Homo sapiens: one gene and its partners. The protein of the gene in region 3 interacts with the protein of the main gene of each other region in a biochemical or structural test. Each region holds a gene or a part of one and is shown on either strand. Other genes may lie near its edges.

Region 1 (7,182 bases), on a different chromosome or scaffold from region 3:
GTGTGTCCAAAGTTTCCTGAATTTTTGTTTTTTCATTAAGCTATCTATTTTCTTGAGTGTTTCTCCCTTCACTTCTTGTATCATTTTTGGATTTCCTTGCCTTGGGCTTTGCCTTTCTCTGGTCCCTCCCTGATTAGCTTAATAACTAACCTCCTGAATTCTTTTTCAGGTAAATCAGGGAATCTTCTTGGTTTGGATCCATTGCTGGTGAATTAGTATGATTTTTTGGGGGTGTTGAAGAGCCTTGTTTTATCATGTTACCAGGGTTGGTTTTCTGGTTCCTTCTCATTGGGGTAGGCTCTGTCAGAGGGAAGGTCTAGGGATGAAGGCTATCGTTCAGATTCTTTTGTTCCACGAAGTGTTCCCTTGATGTAGTATTCTCTCTCTTTTCCTATGGATGTGGCTTCCTGTGAACCAAATTGCAGTGATTGCTGTCTCTCTTCTGGGTCTAGCCACCCAGCAAGTCTACTCAGCTCTGGGCTGGTAGTAGGGGATGTCTGCACAGAGTCCTGTGATGTGAACCATCTATGGGTCTCTCAGCTGTGGATACCAGCACCTGTTCTGGTGGAGGGTGCAATGGACTCCGTGAGGATCCTTAGTTTTGGTGGTTTAATACCCTATTTTTGTGTTGGTTGGCCTCCTGCCAGGAGGTGGTGCTTTCCAGAAAACATCAGCTGTAGTAGTGTGGAGAGAGACTGGTGGTAGGTGGGGTCCTAGAACTCCCAAGATTATATGCCCTTTGTCTTCCACTACCAGGGTGGACAGGGAAGGACCATCAGGTGGGGGCAGGATTAGGCATGTCTGAGCTCAGACTCTCCTTGGGCGGGTCTTGTTGCGACTGCTGTTGGGGATGGGGGAAGAGATTCCTAGGTCACTTGAGTTGTGTACCTAGGAAGATTATGACTGCCTCTGCTGAGTCATGCAGGTTGTCAGTAAAGTGGGGGAAAGCCGGCAGTCACAGGCCTCACTCAGCTCCCACACAAACTGAAGGGCTGGTCTCACTCCCATGGTCTCACTCCCACCGTGCCCCTCTCACAACTCTGAGTCTGTTTCCAGGCCACAGGCGGGCAGCAGGCTTGCCCCAGGCTATCCGCCTCCCAGCTGCAAGAGAAAAGGGCTTTAGTTTTCCCCCTGCCGGTGAAGTCTGCATGCAGGATTTGCACCCTACCTTGAGTTCTGGTCAGGAGGCTTCTCACCCTGTTCAAATTGTTACAAAGTTCAGCTAGAGAATTCCTTCTCCCTGGGGAGTTTTATCCCCTGCTCCTCTGGCCACCCTCCCAATGGATCCCTGTGGTGCCAGGCAGGAATGGCCTGCTTGGGGACCCAGCAAACTCCCAGGGCCTTTCTGCTGCTTCCTCTACCCCTGTTATTTCGCTTGCCTCTCTAACTTGACTCAGCTCCAGGTAAAGTTGGAAACTTCTCCTGCAAACAGACCTTCAGCTTCTCCAGTGGGGGTGTGTGTTTGGGAGAGGAGGGTCTCCCTTTCCCATTTCTGCAGTTGGGGCACTCCCAATATTTGGGGTTTCTCCCGGGTGCTGCAGGAGCAGTCCGCTTTCTTCAGAGGGTCTGTGGGTCCTCTTGAGATTGCTGATTTTTTCTTGCAGTCAGTCTGGAGCTAACATTTGCAATCAAGCCTCCGCATGTTGCCCGGTCTGGAGCTTCAGTCTAGTCCTGCCTCCCGTCTGCCATGATCCCTTCTGTGATGCCATCAATTTATTTTTTCCCTTCTGTGATGTCATCAATTTATTTTTAAGTGTGTGTGTTGTTTTCTTTTTCTTTTTTTTTTTGAGAGAGTCTTGCTCTGTCACCCAGACTAGAGTGCAATGGCGCAATCTCATCTCATGGCAACCTTTACCTCCCAGGCTCAAGCGGGCCTCCTGCCTCAGTCTCCTGAGTAGCTGGGACTCACAGGCGTGCACCACTACAACTAGTAAATTTTTGTATTTTTTGTAGAGATGAGGTTTCTCCATGTTGCAGTTGTTTTACTTCTATGGGACTGATCCCTCTGCTTTTTAAGATTTTTCCCCAGCTGCACAATCTATATCTTTAGAACTTGATATGCGGCAGCGTTTCATAGATGTGTTATGGAAACAAAGAGTCACTGTTAATCAACACAGCTTCTTGAGAGCAAGAAGCTATTGAAACATCAGTTACTAGAGATTCCCAATGTGCCCAGTCACTGCGATAGATATTATGGTGAAACACATTTCAACACGTATAGTACAATGTGATGGATATGTACAAACATGTTCAAAATACTTATGGAAGGGCAAAGGAACAAGTAACTAGTAACTAACTCATCTGTATGGTATCATAGAAAGTTGTATGTATTAAGTAACATTTGTGTCTTGAAGAAAATGTAAGTCTTTTTTTTCTTTTTTTTTTTTTTTTGAGAAGGAGTCTCGCTCTTTTGCCTAGGCTGGAGTGCAGTGGCGTGATCTCGGCTCACTGCAAGCTCTGCCTCCCAGGTTCTGGCCATTCTCCTGCCTCAGCCTCCCGAGTAGCTGGGATTACAGGCATGAGCCACTGCACCTGGCCAAAGGAAATGTAAGTCTTAAAGTGGCAGAAGTATCCCAGGGAAAAAAGAACAGCATGCATATATGTAAGGAGAGAGGTATGACTTGGAATGGACATGCAGCATGTCCAAGGAACTGCAGGCAATTTGATGTGTCTGTAGTAGCATGCTTAGGGAGTGGTAGTGTGTCATGGGAGACAGACTAGAAAAATAGGCGGAGACCAGATCATAAAGAATTTGTGTATCATACTAACTTGTTTAGGTTGCCAACTAGTGCCACAGATGCAATACTAAAGCATTAAATCAATTTGTTTCCTAATTAACATCTCAAATAAAACTATATGAATAGTAGAGAGAAAATTACAGATTGACCTTACTCACCTTTCAACACTATTGAGATAAGAGGATCCATCATGGCCTCCTACTGCATATAACAGATCATCAAGAACACTGACCCCAACTCCGCATCTCCTTTTGCTCATTGAAGCCACCATTCTCCATTCATTGGTCTGTGGATCATATCGTTCAACACTGGAAATGGCATCTCCACTGCACCAACCACCAACTGGGGAAGTAACAGAAATGGTCAAGAGAATCCTATCCTGAAGCATAAAATGTAACACTCACTACTAACTTCACTGTGACCTAATGCTTAGACTCACCAAATGTCTCTAGTAGTAGGTCAAAATGCAAGTTATGACTTCAACTCATTCCACTGGGATTGCTATAATCTTTAATCAATTCTGTAAATAAGTTAGTATTACGTCTATTTTACAAAGGAAGGCAATGATACCAATTCACATAGGATTATGAGATAATATGTATATATGGATAGAATGGAGAAATTATAGATGGATATGCATAGAATGGAGAAATAAATTATAATTGTTTAATGTTTTTTCACAATTCCATGTGATTATGGGATGAGCTGCACATTGATATATAAATTAATGCATGTGACTCATTTCAACAAAACATCTACTGCACGACATTTTTATTTTTTATTTTTTGAGACAGGATCTTGTTCTGTTCCCCAGGCTGGAGTACAGTGGTGCAATCACAGCTCACTGCAGCCTTGACCTCCTAGGCTCAAGCCATCCTCCTGTCTCAGCCTCCCAAGTAGCTGGGACTACAGACATGCACTACCACACTCAGCCAATTGTTTTTCTTATTTTTTGTAAAGATGGGGCCTCCCTATATTGCCCAGGCTGGTCTCAAACGCCTGGCCTCCAGAAAGCTGTATAGGCATGAGCCACTGTGACCAGCCAACATTTTTGGATTTATATAAAAATAGATATTAAAGGTGTTGAATGAGAAAAAAGAATAGAGCACTCTTTTGGAGTATATCAGTGTGGAATCATGGGTTATGAGTCAAGCTATATGCTGACTTATTATTTGTGTCTTATGACAGTAAATATCATAATTGTCCAAAGGATTTTTCAAATGACAGTTTCTCACCTGGGAAAATACTCAATTTACTAACAGTATATTAAGATCCAAACCTGCAAAGAGTACTTCCCCACATCGGATAGGTTTCCGTGGTCTCGTCCTTGGTCCTTGCATTAGTGGTCGTTCTTGCGGCAATAGGAGGTAGTTTTTAGCCTCATCTACCAAGTCTCTGTAGAAAAAATTCTGCCTTTATTCCAAATATCTAAATTACATTGTTAGTTAAGTCCCAATGTAGTTTAGGAATATATAGGTTGGCAAAGGGAAGCAAGCATAAATCAAACCAAATCATGAATGCCAGCCAATATTAAAATTGGCACAAACATGAAACCAATAATGCCAGTCAAACTGAGTTGTGAATTGATTGGTATTTCCATCATGACTCATGTCTCACTGCAAATTTAGCCTAAAGCTCAACATGCTTACAGCCAACAATAACTTATAGAAAAGTAAAAATTACAATTTGATTACCACACTGCAGAGTTACTACTTTTTAATAAATTTTATTAGATTCTGCAAGATATTAGCAAGGTAGCACATCAGCCAGGGCAATAGTTATTTGCTAGATTAAAGTAATAAAACTGGGTCAAAAATCGGATTGCTGAAAAGAAACACTGTACTGCCACAAATTTGCTATCTGGTAACATATGAATGGTTTACTCTCAACAAGTCTACCGAGACATATTTCCTGTCTTGTTAAGACACTTTAAGAGAAGAGTCTAGTAATTACACATGTAATGACTTTGCAGTGGCTCACGCCTGTAATCCCAGCACTTTGGGAGGCTGAGGGGCGGTGGATCATGAGGTCAAGAGATTGAGACCATCCTGGCCAATATGGTGAAACCCCGTCTCTACTAAAAATACAAAAAGTAGCTGGGTGTGGTGGTACGCGCCTGTAGTCCCAGCTACTCAGGAGGCTGAAGCAGGAGAATCGGTTGAACTTGGGAGGCAGAGGTTGCAGTGAGTCGAGATTGCACCACTGCACTCCAGCCTGGCAACAGAGCGAGACTCCGTCTCAAAAAAAAAAAAAAAAAAGACAAAGACTTTGATCTCCTAATAGCTTGTTAGGTCATTTGAGGGTTCCTACAAATAATACTATAGAGCTATAATATTGAGCAAACCAACACAAAATTAATGGTAGTAACAACACTTACAGCTATGTGCTAGTCCTGGTTTTAAGTGCTTAATAGATATAAACTCATTTAATCTTCACAACAGCCTTATGGAATAGGCACTATTATCATCCTCACTTTATAGAGGAAGAAACTGCAGCAAAAAGAAGTTAGGATATCAGGAAGGGTCTTCTTTTAAATATGACTTCATAAGTACTTTTACTTTCTGCATCAGAATCAGTACAATACAATCTGATTTACTTTTAATGGAGGAGGGCATCTATGTATTATTTCTTCAGATTTCAGCATGTATAATGTACATGGTTTTCCTTTTTGCTACTGCAAATATTTAGGAGAATTAATTGCCATTTGTCTGTGTGTTTTTTTTTTTTTTTTTTGAGACTGAGTTTCACTTTTGTTGCCCAGGCTGGAGAGCAATGGTGTGATCTTGGCTCACCGCAACCTCCACCTCCCAGGTTCAAGCAATTCTCCTGCCTCAGCCTCCTGAATAGCTGGGATTACAGGCATGCACCACCATGTCCAGCTAATTTTTGTATTTTTAGTACAGATGCAGTTTCTCCATGTTGAGGCTGGTCTCGAACTCCTGACCTCAGGTGATACACCCACCTCGGCCTCCCAAAGTGCTGGGATTACAGGCGTGAGCCACTGCGCCCGGCCTGTCTGTGTTTTAAATATAGAATACAAAAATCTAGTTTAACTCTAGTCTATGGTAAACTGAAAAATGAAGAATGATTAATATAAAAAAGATACAATAAAATAAAATAGAAACATCTAAAATCCCCTCCAGCCTCTCCTGTTAAAAGAACAGGCTTTAGTTTATAGAAGAAATGCAAGTGAATCTACATGTCCTACCACCATTCTAGAATCAGGGATCATTCTAAATGTCTTTAATCACCAAGGGAGGTTCAAAGGTCAGTGTAGTTTACAAAGTTCTGAGTATGGATTTTCTCTTTCACTTTTATATTTGGGACATGCTGGGGAAAAATGGTTAACAATCCCAGATGATTTCAGATTTGAACCTAAATCTTACAATCTGTCAAATTGGGAATGTAATTTATTACATTTTGTATATACTTTAAAGACAGCCTAGTAAAATAGGTTGCTTTTTTCCCCCCCTTTGAAAAAGTAGTTAAGAGTTTCTTTCGTCAAAAAACCTCTGGAAACTGCTTCACCTAGTTTTAGTGAAAATCTTTCTACAGCTGTTTTAGAAAGTGGCAGATCTTCAACTCTGTCCACAATTTAGAAAGCAAGGCTGATTCTATTCCCCAACCAGACATATGTGATGGAAGGAAAAAATGTTCATTGACAGAGTCAACAGCATTATTTAATTATCTCAAGGAAAAAAAAAATATTAGCAGAGAATTGACTCTTTAAATTCAAGCCTGCATTAAAATCTTGGAAATCTACCTTTTTATTGCCACTTCTACACCAGTAAGCACCACACATAAAAACCTAATGGAATGAAACACTGGAAGTTCAGTTCTCTCTTCTTCTTTTCCTCCTCTTGACTCTAGCCCAGAAGAAAACCTTGTTAAATTAAAGCCCTGGTTTCAGCTCTGCAAAATACAATATTTAGGAAGCAATACAAATAAGGAAATTAGGAAAAAATAGGAATGCTTAGTTGTTGATTTTTCCCATCCAGGGTCACTCATACCTGCATTCTTCATCACTTTTGATGAGGGGATCAGAGCCTACTGTGCCGACCAGGAACTTGGGACTAAGCAAAGGCAAACGAACATGCTGCAGCACCTATGAGAAAATAAACACCATTATTTTAATTAATTAATTTTGAGATAGGTCTTACTCTGTTGCCTAGGCTGGAGTACAGTGGCATGATCGTAGGTCACTGCAGCCTCAATCTCCTGGGCTCAAGTGATGTGCCTACCTCAGCCTCCAGAGTAGCTGCAACTACAAGTGCATGCCACCATGCCCAACAAATTTTTGTATTTTTTTTTTTGTAGAAACGGGGAATCACCACGCTGCCCAGGCTGGTCTCAAACACCTGAGCTCAAGTGATCTGCCTGCCTTATCCTCCCAAGTGCTGGGATTATGGGCTTGTACCACTGCACCCAGCCAATAAACACTATT
Region 2 (7,802 bases), on a different chromosome or scaffold from region 3:
CTGGAATTTTGATAGGGACTGGGTTAAATCTATATATTGCTTTGGATAAATCTATATATTGCTTTGGATGAACATTTTAACAATATTAATTTCCTTGCTGGAATAGCAGTTAGGATTTGGTGCTCTCTCCTGCAGCTTCTTGAAGTGTGACTTTGCTAAGCCTTAAGCAATTAAACACATTATATCTCTGGAAACATATATAAGAAACTGATAGCAGTGGTTGTCCCCAAAGCGGGGAACCAGATGTTGGGAAGCAGGGGTGGGAGTGAGACGTTTCCTGTTGCCCTTTTACTCCTTCTGAATTTTAAATAATGAGAATGTATTTAAATAAATAGAAATGAGGCACTAAAAATTAGTGTATTTTTATAAGTCAGATACTATCTTGATTTAGATTCTAGTAAAGTGGTAGTAAGATGCAAACATTTTTAAAAGATATGAGATATTTTTTATTTTTATTTTTTGAGATAAAGTGTCACTCTTTCTCCCAGGCTAGAGTGCAGTGGCACCATCAGTGCTCACTGCAGCCTCGACTTCCTGGCATCAGGTGATTCTCCCACCTGAGCCTCCTGAGTCACTGGGACTACAAGTGCACACCCCCACCGCCACCTAATTTTCTGTATTTTTAGTAGAGATGGGGTTTTGCCACATTGCCCAGGCTGGTCTTGAATTCCTGGGCTCAAGTGATCCTCCGGCCTTGGCCTCCCAAAGTGCTGGGATTACAGGCATGAGCCACTGTGCCTGATCATGAGAGAAGTTTTGTGTAAATTTGGAAAATACTACCACTCTTTGATTCTGTAGATCCGGCACCTTGGTCTGGTGTTCTATTGGAGCAGTTTGGGAATCATGACTCTTAAGGAAAGAGAATGTTGACAGTCAAAACTTTGCTTGGATATGCTTTAGAGAATTTCACAGTGATTTGAAAAGAACACTCTCTGTGATGTGCTCTTTAAAACCATTACACAACCATTATTTTGATGTTGTGGATATTACTTTTTCTCGCATCATTTTTCTCAACAAAAGGATAAGGTCAGTAAGTGTATATACGTTTATAAACTAAGGAAGTTAAGTAATGTAAGCACAAACCATCCAAGGAATTTGTTAGTGATGCAATCCTGGCCTCTAAATTGCTCTTGACCAAGGAGCTTCACATATGGGAAGGATCAGAAATTCTATGGCATGGAATCAAAGACACTCTTCCTGCTTCAGGGGCACATATAGATTAGTACTGTCATTGCAGTTTCCTATTAGATGATTCTTAGTGACCAAATCTCTGTCTAGGACCCAGATACCTTATTTACTCAAAATAGTGGACGGAAAATAAACGTTTGATATACATGTATGCATAATATTTTCATCTACATAATTTTTATTTCCCTGAGTGTTTTTTCTTGGGTCATATTTAAAACTCATGCCAGCCCTGTGAAGAAGGTTGTCATTTTTTTTTTCTGATGTACACATGTGGAAAAAGTGACTGGACAGAATCATTCTATTGATAAGTAGCACAGAGTCAGGCATTTTGATTCTTGGGCTTTTGTTCTTCCCCCTGGAAAATGCTTAGTGACTTGATCTGGAATGCCATCCTCTCTTTTCAGGTTTTGACTTGATCTTTAAAATTATGCTCAAAATTCTTCCCCAAGAGGCTGTTTCACCAAAGCCCAGATGGTTTTTGCTGGTTCCAAGACTCCCAAAAACTTGTTTCCAGTATTTTCTATTATATCCAGTATCTATTATTTATCACATTCCAGTATGAACATGGAATATGATTTATTGTATTGACTTACAGAATTTGCTTTATTGTATTTATTTTTTTCTTTTCTTTTTTTTTTTTTCTTTTTTGAAACGGAGTCTCACTCTGTCACCCAGGCTGGAGTGCAGTGGCGCAATCTTGGCTCACTGCAACCTCCGCCTCCCGGGTTCAAGCGATTCTTCTGCCTCAGCCTCCTGAGTAGCTGGGACTACAGGCTCGTACCACCACACCTGGCTAATTTTTTATTTTTAGTAGAGACAGGGTTTCACCATGTTGGCCAGGCTGGTCTCAAACTCCTGACCTCGTGATCACCCACCTCGGCCTCCCAAAGTGCTGGGATTACAGACGTGAGCCACTGCGCCCGGCCTGTACTGATTTTCTTTCTGCTATTTGTCTCCCTTTCTTATTTTATGTAAATTATTATAAATAGTACTACTCCTGACTTACAGACATTTACATTCTGTTTTTAATAACTTCTAGATGACTAGAGAATAGTAGTTCCAAACTTTTGTGTACATAAGAATAACCTAGGGAAGTTATTAAAAATAGACTTCTCAGTGCTCTTCCCATAGGTTCTAGTTCTGTTGGGGGGAGGCGGGGGAGGTCCAGGAATCTGCATTTTCAATAAGCACCCCAGAGGATGCTGATGCAGGTGATCCAGTAACCACGCTTTCAGAAATTCTGCTGTTGAGAACTAAAAATGTGATTGTTATCCTCTGCTCAGTAGGGGAAACAGAGGTGTAAAATAAAATAACTGAGTTCTTGCTCTCTTGGTGTTGACAAACTTTCAGCTGTGAGTGGTGTGGACACTAAATGCAATAGGAATACAAAGAAGGGAGGCATCACTTCTGGCTGGATTGTCAAGCTTCATAAAAGATAGGGGGTTTGAAGAAAAGAAATTTCAAAAAGATGAAAAAAAAATGGGCCGGGCGCGGTGGCTCACGCCTGTAATCCCAGCGCTTTGGGAGGCGGAGGTGGCCGAATCACGAGGTCAGGAGTTCGAGACAAGCCTGGGCAACATGGTGAAACCCCGTCGCTACTAAAAATACAAAAAATTAGCCGGGCGTGGTGGCAGGTGCCTGTAATCCCAGCTACTCGGGAGGCTGAGGCAGGAGAATCGCTTGAACCCGGGAGGCGGAGCATGCAGTGAGCCGAGATTGTGCCACCATTGCACTCCAGCCTGGGTGACAGAGCAAGACTCCGTCTCAAAAAAGAAAAAAAAAAGTGGATTATTTCAAGATGTTGGAACAGCAAAGACTAAGTGTTGAGGATGCATAACTTCTTTTAGGGGATCAGTATGTGGAATGATGTGCCTGAACTAAAAAGAGTTTTTGTGGGCACATGTAGGAATTTACACTTGGAAAGACAGGAGTCAGATCGCAGAGAGTCTTGAATTTGGACTCTATTCTGCAGGTATTGGGTGGTTCCTCAAACACGCAGGTAAGATAAAAGTGATCTTAAAAGATTGATGTGGCAGTGAGTTTGAAAGCCGTGAACTACGTTTGGCGGTCTTTGTACACATTGGGAGAAACGCCAATTGTGAAAGTAGATTTAACATGATCTGGAGCTTGACTATGTGAGAAAGCGAAAAGTGTCAGAAACGCTGCTGAGGTTTGAACCTCCTTGACTGGGAGGATTATGTACAATTTCACCGCCCAGCAAATCTGAAGGAGGAAATGTTTTGAGGATAGTATGTTTGGTTCTAGGTCTAGAATTCAACTTCCTGCCAAATTTGGAATCTTCTGTACATATGCATCAGGTGGCTTCGTTTAAATATACGACAATTACTTTTATTATGTTGAAAGGAAAAGGTCTGGAGCTCGAGGGAGGGGATTACAGATTTGGGTCCATTGGCGCAAAGGGAGGCTGACTGTTCAGATTAATAATTATTAACGGCCACCGTATGGAAAGCACTGCACGAAAAACTAAGATGACCAGTCCTCGTCCTTAAGAAATTCAAAATCTAGACGGAATCTCCAAGAAAGAGATTCCGGTAAGAGTACATGGCAAGCCTCCATATCCACACACCACTGACCAATGAATTTGTACTCTTCTCGTTGGAGTAGTTGAGGGCCTTTGGCTCAAGGAGGGGTGAAAATTAGCAGGATACTAAATTGGGAATGAGAAATCTCTTTTTAGAGGGCGTGGACTTGCAGAACTCTTTGAAGCAGCAGATGCTAGACTGCCCAAACCCCACGCGAGAGTAGCTCTCTGGAGTTGCGGAGTCCGAACCTCCCAAGAGCTACAAATTTATTCCGCAACTACCAATTTTGCGGTTTGGGGCCAGTAAGGCGCCAAGACCCGCCCAGGTGTCCAGACCTCGCAACGATTGGACGAGCTCACCTTCTCGCCTTCCCCGGGCCCCTCGCCCGTCAATCACACTGCTTGCTCGCCACCTGACCTCTGCTGCGCCCCCTTTCAGTGGTGTAACACCTGGCGCTCTTTCGCGCCCCAGCCCTCCGGCGCCCCACCAATCGCTTCAGTTCTTCATTGGCCAGCAGAGAGGTGAGGGAAGGGAAGGGGCGCTCTATTTTGCTCTCTGAACGCACCCTCTCAAGTTTCCCAGTCTTCTCGTAGACGGTCAGGAGAGCAATGACAGCCTGGAGCAGTCGCGCGTGAGCGCAAAAATGCCCGCTGGTGGAGGAGCGCTTCCCCTCCCTCCCAAGCGATTTGCCGCATTTGTTCTGACGCAGGGGCACCCCGCTCGCCGTCTTCACTTACGATTGGCTGTGGCCGAAGCCCGTCACACAGCCCGCCCCACTCCTCTGCCTCAAGAGGCCGCACCTCACGCCGTCGCTGCCGCTTAGCCGTGTGATTGGCTAAGAGGGCTGGCATGCTTTCCCGCCCCCTCCCCCGCCGCCGCACCAAGAGGCGGGCGGGACCCCGCGGAAGTTGTCAGTCAAACTCCTCCTTCCCACCCCTTGCGAGGCCCCTCCCCGGGCCGCGCGCCCTGGCGCGCGCACACGCGCACACACTCCCCAGTCGCCTGTACCAACCACCTTCTCAAGTTGTAGCGGTCGCTCGCCTGGGGTTCTCCGTGGGCGGCCGACGGGCGCGTGGGGGAGGGGGTTCGGGCCGCCCAGCGCGGCAAGGAGCGAGTGTGTGCACGCAGAGGGCCGGGGCTACGGGGCAGCGCCCCGGGCGATGAGGGGCCGGCGTTGACCGGGAAGAGCGGGCACCGCGGCAGTGGCTCCGAGGGGACCCGCGATGGCAGCGCCCTGAGAGGAGGCTCCAGGCAGGGCGGGCTGCGCTGGCAGCGGCCGCTGAGGTGCTGGCCGGCCGGCTGGCTGGCGACGGGGGCAGAAGCGACGAGAGGCGCGCTCGGCACCCGCACCCCCGTGCCCCCGCCTCAGTTGTCTAAACTTCGGGCTCTCTTCCACCCGCTCTGCGCGCCCAGAGTCAACAACTTCTTCACCCCCCTCCGCCCCCGCCCTTCCCTCCGTCAGCCCCGGGAGCTCGCCGCGCGCCGGGGACCAGGAACCTCCAGCGCTGAGATGTGGCCGTGAGGCGTTGGCGGGCGGCGAGGAGAAGCTCGGCGGCGTCCCGGGGCCGGAGGGCCGTGGGGCCGGGGCGCAGGGGCGCGAGCACCCCGCGCCTCTCCCCCGCCTCCTCCTGCCGTCTCCGCCGCTGCCCGTGCCTTGCAAGCAGCAGCCGGAGCTGCCAAGCGTCAGGGCCGCGGAGATGTCGTCGTCGTCGCCGCCGGCGGGGGCTGCCAGCGCCGCCATCTCGGCCTCGGAGAAAGTGGACGGCTTCACCCGGAAATCGGTCCGCAAGGCGCAGAGGCAGAAGCGCTCCCAGGGCTCGTCGCAGTTTCGCAGCCAGGGCAGCCAGGCAGAGCTGCACCCGCTGCCCCAGCTCAAAGGTAACCTCCGAGGGCGCAGCCCCAGCAGCGAGCGCAGGGGCTGGCAACGCTTGCCTCTGCGCCAGCAGAGCCATTTCCTGCTGGGTTTCTCCTGCTCAGTTGGGACTGGTAGTGTGTGAGCCGAGTTCCCCACAATGCCTTGGCGTCACCTCACGCCCTCCTCCTTATTCAAACAGGTTTTCTGTGAAGTCTTGGCTGTTTCCTTCTAATTCCCACCTGAACTCTTTCCATCCTAGGGGAGGCCAACACCCTTCCCCACCTGCGCGCTTGCTTAACCTGCACTTCCTATCTTGCGTCCCGTGAAGTAGAGTCCTTCACTCCTCTTCCAGGTTTGCCCTTTCCCGGTCTTGCTTTAACAACCGCACGAACCTTCCCCGACCTTCACTTTCCCGAGTGTCAGCTCCTCTGTTCGGCCACTTTTAGCTAGTCCTTTACTTTTACAGTTATAAAGCCGTCTGCACCCACCTTCTTCTCAACTTCACTTCCCATTGATTGCCCCTAAGAGTCATCAGACCAGGAATCCGAATGCAAACAACGGTTAAGAGTTAGCTGGCCTTTGGATGTATTTATAAAGAAAAAGCCTAAAATTTGACCAGTGTAGTATCTTATTCACAGGATCGTTAGCTTTAAATGGTATCCTTTAGCTCAAGGAATAGATTTAAAATATTCTGTTGTCTGAGCCGATACACATGGTCTATTTGGAAATACGAAGGAGTAGGTAGTGTTGCTTTGCAGTCGAATGGGAACTTAGTTTGCCAGGCAGTGATTCCAGGGACTTTGTAGGTTTGTACAGGAATTCAAATTGGTATCCGTGCCTAATGCCTTGCAGGAGAACTTGGCACTCTTTTTGGCTCACTTTTCCCACTAGGTTTAGAGGATTTTCGATGTTATTTCCTGGTGTTCTAGTTTATTCTTTGTGTATTACTCATGCTTAATTTTATAATTTTAATGTCCTTGCTTTTTATGAGATAGAAATGTTGGAACAAGATGATAATGCTCCTACATATTTAGATAAAATTTGCAACCTGACGGAAATCCCTATCATCTGATGTTCAGATTTTTCAATTCATTTGAAAAAGCTGCAGCATCCCCTTCAAGGCCAGTCTGGTTCTCATTTGTCTTTGGGCCTGTGAATCCAGCCTTAGTTTGGCAAGGAGTCTAAAGAAAACCCCAGATCAAATCACAGTTGACCTACAACAGCTCCAGAACCCTATTGAGACCCTACCTTGCCCTGACTCTTGGAGTGCTTCTAAATCATGACATCTCACAGTTAGAATCAAACTGGCTTTTGAACAGAGATTTTGAGATATTAGTCTGTGCTATCGAATTTATCATTTGATTGCTCTTTAGCATATAAAAATTGTTAAAATTTACATAGCAAAATGGTAGACTATAATGATAGGCATTGCCAAGACTTTAATTCTTGAATGATGTCATAGCTATAAAAGAATATCGTCTTTGCTATTCATAGATTTTAAAATTTACACTTATTTAAAATATCATAGTTTTTTTATACTACTGATTTTTTTTCTCCCATTAAATTGTCAAACTGTAGTTTGAAGGTTTGGTGCTAGGGTTATTTCATAGTTATTTAATTTGCTTTTTAGTAAGATATTCTAGTTTCTTAGTATTGTACTTCTTAATAGTATACTTTAATAAAAGTAATTGAATATTAAACATTTGGTTGGTTTCAAGCCAGGAGATGCAGCTTTGATAGGTTTTGCTTTTATTTTATTTATTTTATTTTATTTTTTCACTTTCGTTGCTCAGGCTGGAGTGCAATGGCGCGATCTCAGCTCACTGCAACCTCCGCCTCCCGGGTTCAAACAATTCTTCTGCCTCAGCCTCCCAACTAGCTGGGATTACAGGCATGTGTCACCATGGCCGGCTAATTTCGTATTCTTAGTAGAGATGGGGTTTCACCATGTTGGTGAGGCTGGTCTCCAACTCCTGACCTCAGGTGATCAGGCCACCTCAGCCTCCCAAAGTGGTGGGATTACAGGCGTGAGCCACCGCACCTGGCCACATTTTGCTTTTAAAAGCTTGGAAAAATATGCATAGAGTCAGTAATCATCTAAGTTATATGATGTAGGGTTCAACAAGTTGAAGGTGCCATATAGTATTTGGTCACTAGTAAAGAAGAAAGTAAATTGGAACTTTACATTAATTGTAGATATTTGCATGAAAATACAG
Region 3 (8,051 bases):
TATGCTGTCACTCAGGGGTCCAGAGGGCAGAGATGGAATGCTCAAATTAGGACAATTCAGGGAGGTGTGGGAGAGGTGCAGGGGGACCATAAGGGATGGAGCAGGAACCCAAGGTAGTAATAGCAGAGCTGGCACCAACCCTAGGCTCAAAAAGACAAAGGAGAGAGAGTGGTTACCAAAACCCAGAAAGAGAAAACCCGGTAAAAGACGGGACCTGGTGAGGAGCAGCAACCTGTGTTTGGCTGTGGACTGTGGCAATCTTGCAGGGAGGAGAGCAGAGGAATGACTATCTTGGCTTCACTCTCCTTCCTTCTCCTTCATCTCATGTCAGGTGCCCCATTGGCTAAACCTACCAGCAACCAGAGGACAAGGAATGCATTAAAATAATCTTACGGCTCAGAGAGTAGATTAGATGTAGAGTGACAAATGGATTATATTTAGCACAATCGCAGGTCTATTTGTTGATCCGTCTCCCTCATCAGACTGAGTTACCTGAGGACAGAGAATGTTTCTCTTATATCTGTATCCCTAACATTTGGTGGACACTAGATACTCAAGAAATGCTTATGGACGGGATCAGAGAAGATGGTAAATTGGGCATTAGATGGAGGTTTGTGCTTTCTGAGCTTGCCGCATGCTTTCTGGCGAATCCAAGGCAAAATGAGAAACAGAATGAGCTCTGTACTTTTGTCTGGTAAAAGAAAATATGATTTGGTGAGAAGAAATGAATACTTTTAGCACTCAGTGCTGGGAGGAACTGGAATCAGTCATGTGACTGCCTCTATCAGAGGCTCTCAACTGCGTAACGGACAGAATCTTTAATGGTGAAACCACAATGCAGAAACATTCTTTTTTTTTTTTTTTTTTTTTTTTTTGAGACGGAGTCTTGCTCTGTCACCCAGGCTGGAGTGCAGTGGCACCATCTCGGCTCACTGCAAGCTCCGCCTCCCGGGTTCACCCCATTCTCCTGCCTCAGCCTCCCAAGTAGCTGGGACTACAGGCACCTGCCACCACACCTGGCTAATTTTTTGTATTTTTAGTAGAAATGGGGTTTCACCGTGTTAGCTAGGATGCTCTTGATCTCCTGACCTCGTGATCTGCCCGCCTCGGCCTCCCAAAGTGGGAAACATTCTTAAAAATATTAGCCCTTGATAAAACCAAAGCCATGTTACAAAAAAGCAACCAAAAGGTGGAAATGAGATAATATGGTCCACTTTGAGCTGAGAACATCTTGCCAGAAAATGATTGTCTCAGACTTCAAATCTGACCTCCTACATAAACCTTCAGTGCAATCCTCCCTGTATTATCTCTTCTCTCATCAGCCAAAAGATGGAAAGGATAAACTGAGGAACTTACGCTGGAGGAGCATGGATTCATTAGATGGCAGAAACCTGGGTTTCTGAATGACTACTGTGGAGCTGATCTCTGCTTATGCCCTGCAAACCTTTGTGCTGAGAGCAAGTAACACATTTTTAATGTGTTAAACCTCTGGGATTTGTTGGGTCTTATAGCAATGGTTATTTTACCCTAATACGACTGTAAAATAATGTTCTAAAATCTACAGTCGGGTTTGTTTAAAATATTATCGCCATCATTATTATAATCCATAGTCCATATCATAATTATTTTTATAGAAGTCCTTCTCAACTGGCATCTCATAATTTGTGGCTTCTTATATTGTTGCCTTCTATGTGTGAGATGCCTCTCTGAGTCCTTTTTGCTAGGGACATGATAGAAAATAAAATATCCAACATTCTGGTGTATTTTATAATGTACAAAGTCCTGTTTCATGCATTATCTCTTTAGATTCTCCCAACAAACCCAAGGAATATGTAAGGGTCTATAATCATCTTCATTTCACAGGTGATGAAACTGAGACGTTTACATGTAAAGTGGAAATAACCACTTATTTATTTATTTATTTATTAAATAAAAACCCCGCTAATTTATTTAAAGATTAATTGAGAGAATTATTTCATCTGTCTGGAACCTGGTATGTGTTAAGAGAAAAGTTTTCTTAATTTTTCTTTTTAAGAAGATAATCTATTGCTACATAACAAACCACTCTGAAATAATGACTTAAAACATTAAAAGTCATTGATTTTGCTCACAGAACTTGAACTGGAAGATATAAACAACTGGGAGTGAGGGTGGGGCTGGACAGCTGGCTTCTCTGGGCATCTCTCGTTCTTTCTGTGGTTTTGTCACATGTCTCTACATGGCAGCCCTAGGGTAATCATGACAGCTGAAGGCTTTAGAGTGGGTGGAGGGGGAGAGGGAGGGAGGGAAAGAGAGAGAGAGAGAGAGAGAGAGAAAGAGAAGCAAGCAGGCAGAAGCTCTAATGCCTTATGACCTAACCTTGGAAATAAATTACACTGTGCCACTGCCACTACCTTTTCTTAGAAGCAAGCAGATAGGGTTGGTGAATATTTATTGAGAGGGGAATTAGACTCCACCTCTTGATTGGGGGAGTGTCAAAGAATTTGTGAATATGTTTTTAAATGACCACATTTCCCCTTTCTAAAATGCTTGTCTAAATTGGTGTACACAAAAAGCTCGGGGGTTAGTGACTCATCCAAGGTTATTAAGCTGTTAAATGGTTCCACCAATACTAGATCTAATTTTGTGACTCCAAATTTCATGCTCTTTTTCACTACTCCAGATAATCTCCGGTGAACATCATTGTCCATTAGGGTAGTTAAGACATTCTAGCTGCCAAATAGATTCAGTCCTTTTAATTGCCTCGGACAATATATTTTTTATTTTGCAGAAAATAAATATTACCCATATGGCAGTCATCCATAAACACCTTCCAAGTTTATCCCAAACATCTGTGTTTTAAATTTTTTCTCCCAACAGATGTATTCATTTGCATTTTCCCAGATGAATCACTCTTTTTTTGTTGTTGTTGTTATTTTTGACTGTATTTCTCACCTCTCAAGACCCTTTTGTATTATCAAGCCCACTGCTTAAGCTAATACCATCTCCCAATTTGGGGACTTCCCCTTGATTCCTGTGTGCCCTTCCTGTGGGTCATTAATGCAATGTTATTTAAGACTAGGATTTGGCTGGGCGCAGTGGCTCACGCCTGTAATCCCAGCACTGTGGGAGGCCGAGCCGGGAGGATCACCTGAGGTCAGGAGTTCAAGACCAGCCTGACCAACATGGTGAAACCACGTCTCTACTAAAAATACAAAATTAGCCGGGCATAGTCACATGCCTGTAATCCCAGCTACTGGGTAGCCTGAGGCAGGAGAATCGCTTGAACCCGGGAGGCGGAGGCGGAGTTTGCAGTGAGCCAAGATTTCACAACTGCACTCCAGTCTGGGCCACAAGAGCGAAAACCCGTCTCAAAAAAAAAAAAAAGACTAGGATTTGACATAAGGCCTGAGGGGTATTCTTTTGTTTTGTTTTGCCTTGTTTTCAAGAGGCCAAAATCTTCACAGTTGAAAATTTCTGTTGAACCACAGAGATTTGAACCAACTCAGTTTAGAAAGCCTGGGGATTTGAACAACGGTATGGATCGGAAATCTCTTCATCTGTCAGTTTTCATCATTCTAGGCAGTAAAATAGATTTCCCTTTAGGAGCTTTTCACCGTTTGGGGTTCTCCAGCAGTGGGATGTGGGGAATCAACCCTTCTTCGTCTCCACCCAAACATTAGGTGGGAGCAAGGGGTGGGAAGTAGAGAAAGTGGATAGAGGTCTCCAGTGGATATGGGATCTTTGTGTAGACCAGCACAGTCCTCAGAAATCTCATGCAAGCAACATAGGTACTGTTATATTTTCTAGTGGCCACCTTTTAAAAAGTAAACAGGTGAGGCCGGGCGCGGTGGCTCACGCCTGTAATCCCAGCACTTTGGGAGGCCCAGGCGGGCGGATCACGAGGTCAAGAGATGGAGACCATCCTGGTCGACACGGTGAAACCCCGTCTCTACTAAAAATACAAAAATTAGCTGGGCATGGTGACGCGCGACTGTAGTCCTAGCTACTGGGGAGGCCGAGGCAGGAGAATCACTTGAACCCTGGAGGTGGAGGTTGCCACGCTCCACTACACTCCAGCCTGGCGACAGAGTGAGACTCCGTCTCAAAAAAAAGAAAGTAAACAGGTGAAATTAATTTTAATAATATATTTTGTTTAACCCAACGTATCCAAAATACTATCATTTGAAAGTGTAATGAATATAAAAATATTCATGAGATATTTTTCATTCTCATATCCATACTGTCTTGGACTCTAATGTGTATTTTACACTTACAGCACAATTAATTTGGGACTAGCTACATTTCAGCTCAACAATAGCCAATAGCATATGGGATAGCGCAAATAAACTCTGCGTCTCTGTTGCTTCTTTGGGTCTCGGAGACCTCAACCCTTTCTTCAGATTGCAAACCTTCTTGCCTTCAAGCCTCGGCTCCAACACCAGTCCGGCAGAGGAACCCAGTCTAATGAGGTACGCTCCCTTCCTGCCATTCTCTATTCCATTAACCTGTTTCGTGGTAAACGTAGGACTGATCCTCCAAAATTACCTTATTAATTAGCTTACATATTTATTATCTATCTGTCCCACCAGAATGCAGGTTTCCGGAAGGCAGGGATTTAAAAAAATCTGTTTTGTTCTATGTGATTTTCCCATACCAAGCACCGTGCCCGGCACAAGCTGGGATCCCAGTACACATCTCGGGACGGAAGAACCGTGTTTCCCTAGAACCCAGTCAGAGGGCAGCTTAGCAATGTGTCACAGGTGGGGCGCCCGCGTTCCGGGCGGACGCACTGGCTCCCCGGCCGGCGTGGGTGTGGGGCGAGTGGGTGTGTGCGGGGTGTGCGCGGTAGAGCGCGCCAGCGAGCCCGGAGCGCGGAGCTGGGAGGAGCAGCGAGCGCCGCGCAGAACCCGCAGCGCCGGCCTGGCAGGGCAGCTCGGAGGTGGGTGGGCCGCGCCGCCAGCCCGCTTGCAGGGTCCCCATTGGCCGCCTGCCGGCCGCCCTCCGCCCAAAAGGCGGCAAGGAGCCGAGAGGCTGCTTCGGAGTGTGAGGAGGACAGCCGGACCGAGCCAACGCCGGGGACTTTGTTCCCTCCGCGGAGGGGACTCGGCAACTCGCAGCGGCAGGGTCTGGGGCCGGCGCCTGGGAGGGATCTGCGCCCCCCACTCACTCCCTAGCTGTGTTCCCGCCGCCGCCCCGGCTAGTCTCCGGCGCTGGCGCCTATGGTCGGCCTCCGACAGCGCTCCGGAGGGACCGGGGGAGCTCCCAGGCGCCCGGGTGAGTAGCCAGGCGCGGCTCCCCGGTCCCCCCGACCCCCGGCGCCAGCTTTTGCTTTCCCAGCCAGGGCGCGGTGGGGTTTGTCCGGGCAGTGCCTCGAGCAACTGGGAAGGCCAAGGCGGAGGGAAACTTGGCTTCGGGGAGAAGTGCGATCGCAGCCGGGAGGCTTCCCCAGCCCCGCGGGCCGGGTGAGAACAGGTGGCGCCGGCCCGACCAGGCGCTTTGTGTCGGGGCGCGAGGATCTGGAGCGAACTGCTGCGCCTCGGTGGGCCGCTCCCTTCCCTCCCTTGCTCCCCCGGGCGGCCGCACGCCGGGTCGGCCGGGTAACGGAGAGGGAGTCGCCAGGAATGTGGCTCTGGGGACTGCCTCGCTCGGGGAAGGGGAGAGGGTGGCCACGGTGTTAGGAGAGGCGCGGGAGCCGAGAGGTGGCGCGGGGGTGCCACCGTTGCCGCAGGCTGGAGAGAGATTGCTCCCAGTGAGGCGCGTACCGTCTGGGCGAGGGCTTCATTCTTCCGCGGCGTCCCTGGAGGTGGGAAAGCTGGGTGGGCATGTGTGCAGAGAAAGGGGAGGCGGGGAGGCCAGTCACTTCCGGAGCCGGTTCTGATCCCAACAGACCGCCCAGCGTTTGGGGACGCCGACCTCGGGGTGCCGTGGTGCCCGGCCCCACGCGCGCGCGGGGCTGAGGGGTCGGGGGCGTCCCTGGCCGCCCAGCTTTAACAAAGGGTGCTCCTCTCCACCCCGCGAGGAGGGGCAGCTCCGGAGACCCGGTCTTCAGCGAGCGGGGTCTTAGCGCCGGGGAGGTCTACTTCCTTTTGGGGTTGCCATTTTACTATTATTATTGCCTTTTTTTTTTCTTCAAAAGGACTGGAGACTGATGCATGAGGGGGCTACGGAGGCGCAGGAGCGGTGGTGATGGTCTGGGAAGCGGAGCTGAAGTGCCCTGGGCTTTGGTGAGGCGTGACAGTTTATCATGACCGTGTTCAGGCAGGAAAACGTGGATGATTACTACGACACCGGCGAGGAACTTGGCAGGTAAAGGGGGTACCAGAAGCGTACCCTCCTGGATTGTGGAAATGCATAACGATGGGGCCATTGGGTGGTAAACAAATGCAGTTTGAATCAGGCGTCTCCCTCGCCCTTTCTGGAGATGCGCAAATCATAGAGAAAAGAGTTACTAACCCAGCGGTAAACCGCCTGATCCAAGGGCCTGGGGGTGGAGGAGAGGCAGCAGTTCAGGGCTAGATTATGATGCACAGTATATTGATCCAGTCCCCTGGACAAAATCAGATTTAATTGTCCGTGCTAACTCTTGTCAGCCCTTGCCCTTCTGTGACAACAGGACAAACACTAAGATTATAATTGCAATTGGAGTTAGCTTTTATGTGTGATTTAAACGGAGGGTACAAACTAATTAATAGGTTTTAAAAATCTTAGTACTTTACCCTCTATCTAAATTTTCAGTGTAATTTGAGCAAGTATTGGTAGGTGGTAAATGGAGACTTGCCAGATGTTGACATTGGGCTTGGATTTTGAAACTTCTTCCAACCAGGAATTTAATTACCTGGTTGGTGTTGGTGGTTGCTTTGGTTTCATTTACAATGTTAAATTTTTAACAAATCAATGAGAGTCTAATATGGCTATCTGGATTCAGAGCATACCTCCATTGCTGTAGCAGCTGTGATTCTCAGTGTAAAATCTTTCAGTTTCTAGGTAAACAAAGAATAGTTTCTTTCGGGGCATCTAAGGGCTGATTGCTGTTTCCTTTGACTGTGTATTAGACAGAGTGTTTTGGGCTCTGGTCAACTTTAGTAGAAAACCTAGTTTTCATACATACATTTAAAACTGAATTTATGGAATTTGACTGTGGTGTATTTACATTGTGAGTGGAGTAGGCAAAAGGATCTTTAAACAAACAAAATATGTATTTACTTATATGTGCATTGAAATATGTATTTTCCCATATACATCTGATGTCCTGATACAAAGCTTCCTTTTTCTCCATGAAAAGGAAATTAAAAAACACCCACATCCTGGATTGCCTAATGAGAATTATGGAAACTAAGCTTAACTAAATTTTTTTAAAAATTCAAATGATAGTGTAGAATTTTTTTAAAAGTTACTGTAACAGAGTATTTCTCTAAATATTTAGTATCGACTGAAAACATAGATGGGGGCCTGTGCTTAGGAAGAGCTCTCTGTATATTGATGATCTGGTGAGTAAATAAGGAAAGCTCTTCAAACATCACATTTCATGGATATGTTTAAGATTAAAGTTTAAGAGTGTGTGGGTGAAATATTTGGTTTAACTGGAATTAAATAACTTTACTGTGGTTTTCAGCAAGATGAGTGGTATTTGGAGTTTTCCTTTGGGACTGGAAGAAAAAAGCAAAAAAATAAATTTTAATTTGATTTGCATAGTGTGGCCTGATCGTTTAAGTGTTGTTAGAAAGAGAGATGACTAAAATTAGTTGAGATTATTATATTATGGATTAAGTATATTGACCTTATTTTCATTATGATTTTTTGGTACCATTATGTGTTATGAGAAAGAAATAGAAAAAGAGGCCTCCCTGTGGTTGGCGAAGGGAGTTTTTGATCTTTATTTCGTGGGCGTGATGATGAGGGGAGGGAGGTGGCTTACTTATTTGTCACTAGCACTTTGATTTGCTCAGTGTACATTTTTGTGTATAACGTTCTCCCCACTGTGCAAGGCAAATTGACAAATTGTTTATTAAATAATTTGTGTGACCTAGGAATTTTAAAGAAATGCTCTGAAAAACTGGAAGTCTGAAGTT

The links. Proteins that work in one complex are often made in the same cells at the same time.
Region 1: the proteins of DAPK1 (region 3) and KLHL20 are reported together in a solved structure, tested with the Homo sapiens proteins (2 studies listed by BioGRID and IntAct, with this or other methods).
Region 2: of the proteins of DAPK1 (region 3) and PPP2R5A, one has a biochemical effect on the other in vitro, tested with the Homo sapiens proteins (one study listed by BioGRID).

Annotation. Positions count from the first base shown.
Region 1 is NC_000001.11:173,752,874-173,760,055, reverse strand, and holds part of KLHL20 (kelch-like protein 20), read right to left. Parts: intron 6,844-7,182; coding exon 6,749-6,843; intron 4,134-6,748; coding exon 4,018-4,133; intron 3,081-4,017; coding exon 2,897-3,080; intron 1-2,896. UniProt on the Homo sapiens protein: Substrate-specific adapter of a BCR (BTB-CUL3-RBX1) E3 ubiquitin-protein ligase complex involved in interferon response and anterograde Golgi to endosome transport.
Region 2 is NC_000001.11:212,280,683-212,288,484, forward strand, and holds the start of PPP2R5A (serine/threonine-protein phosphatase 2A 56 kDa regulatory subunit alpha isoform), read left to right. Parts: upstream 1-4,727; 5' UTR 4,728-5,428; coding exon 5,429-5,609; intron 5,610-7,802. UniProt on the Homo sapiens protein: The B regulatory subunit might modulate substrate selectivity and catalytic activity, and might also direct the localization of the catalytic enzyme to a particular subcellular compartment.
Region 3 is NC_000009.12:87,492,852-87,500,902, forward strand, and holds the start of DAPK1 (death-associated protein kinase 1), read left to right. Parts: upstream 1-5,015; 5' UTR 5,016-5,256; exon of another isoform or gene 5,257-5,521; intron 5,522-5,730; exon of another isoform or gene 5,731-5,785; intron 5,786-6,118; 5' UTR 6,119-6,226; coding exon 6,227-6,288; intron 6,289-8,051. UniProt on the Homo sapiens protein: Calcium/calmodulin-dependent serine/threonine kinase involved in multiple cellular signaling pathways that trigger cell survival, apoptosis, and autophagy.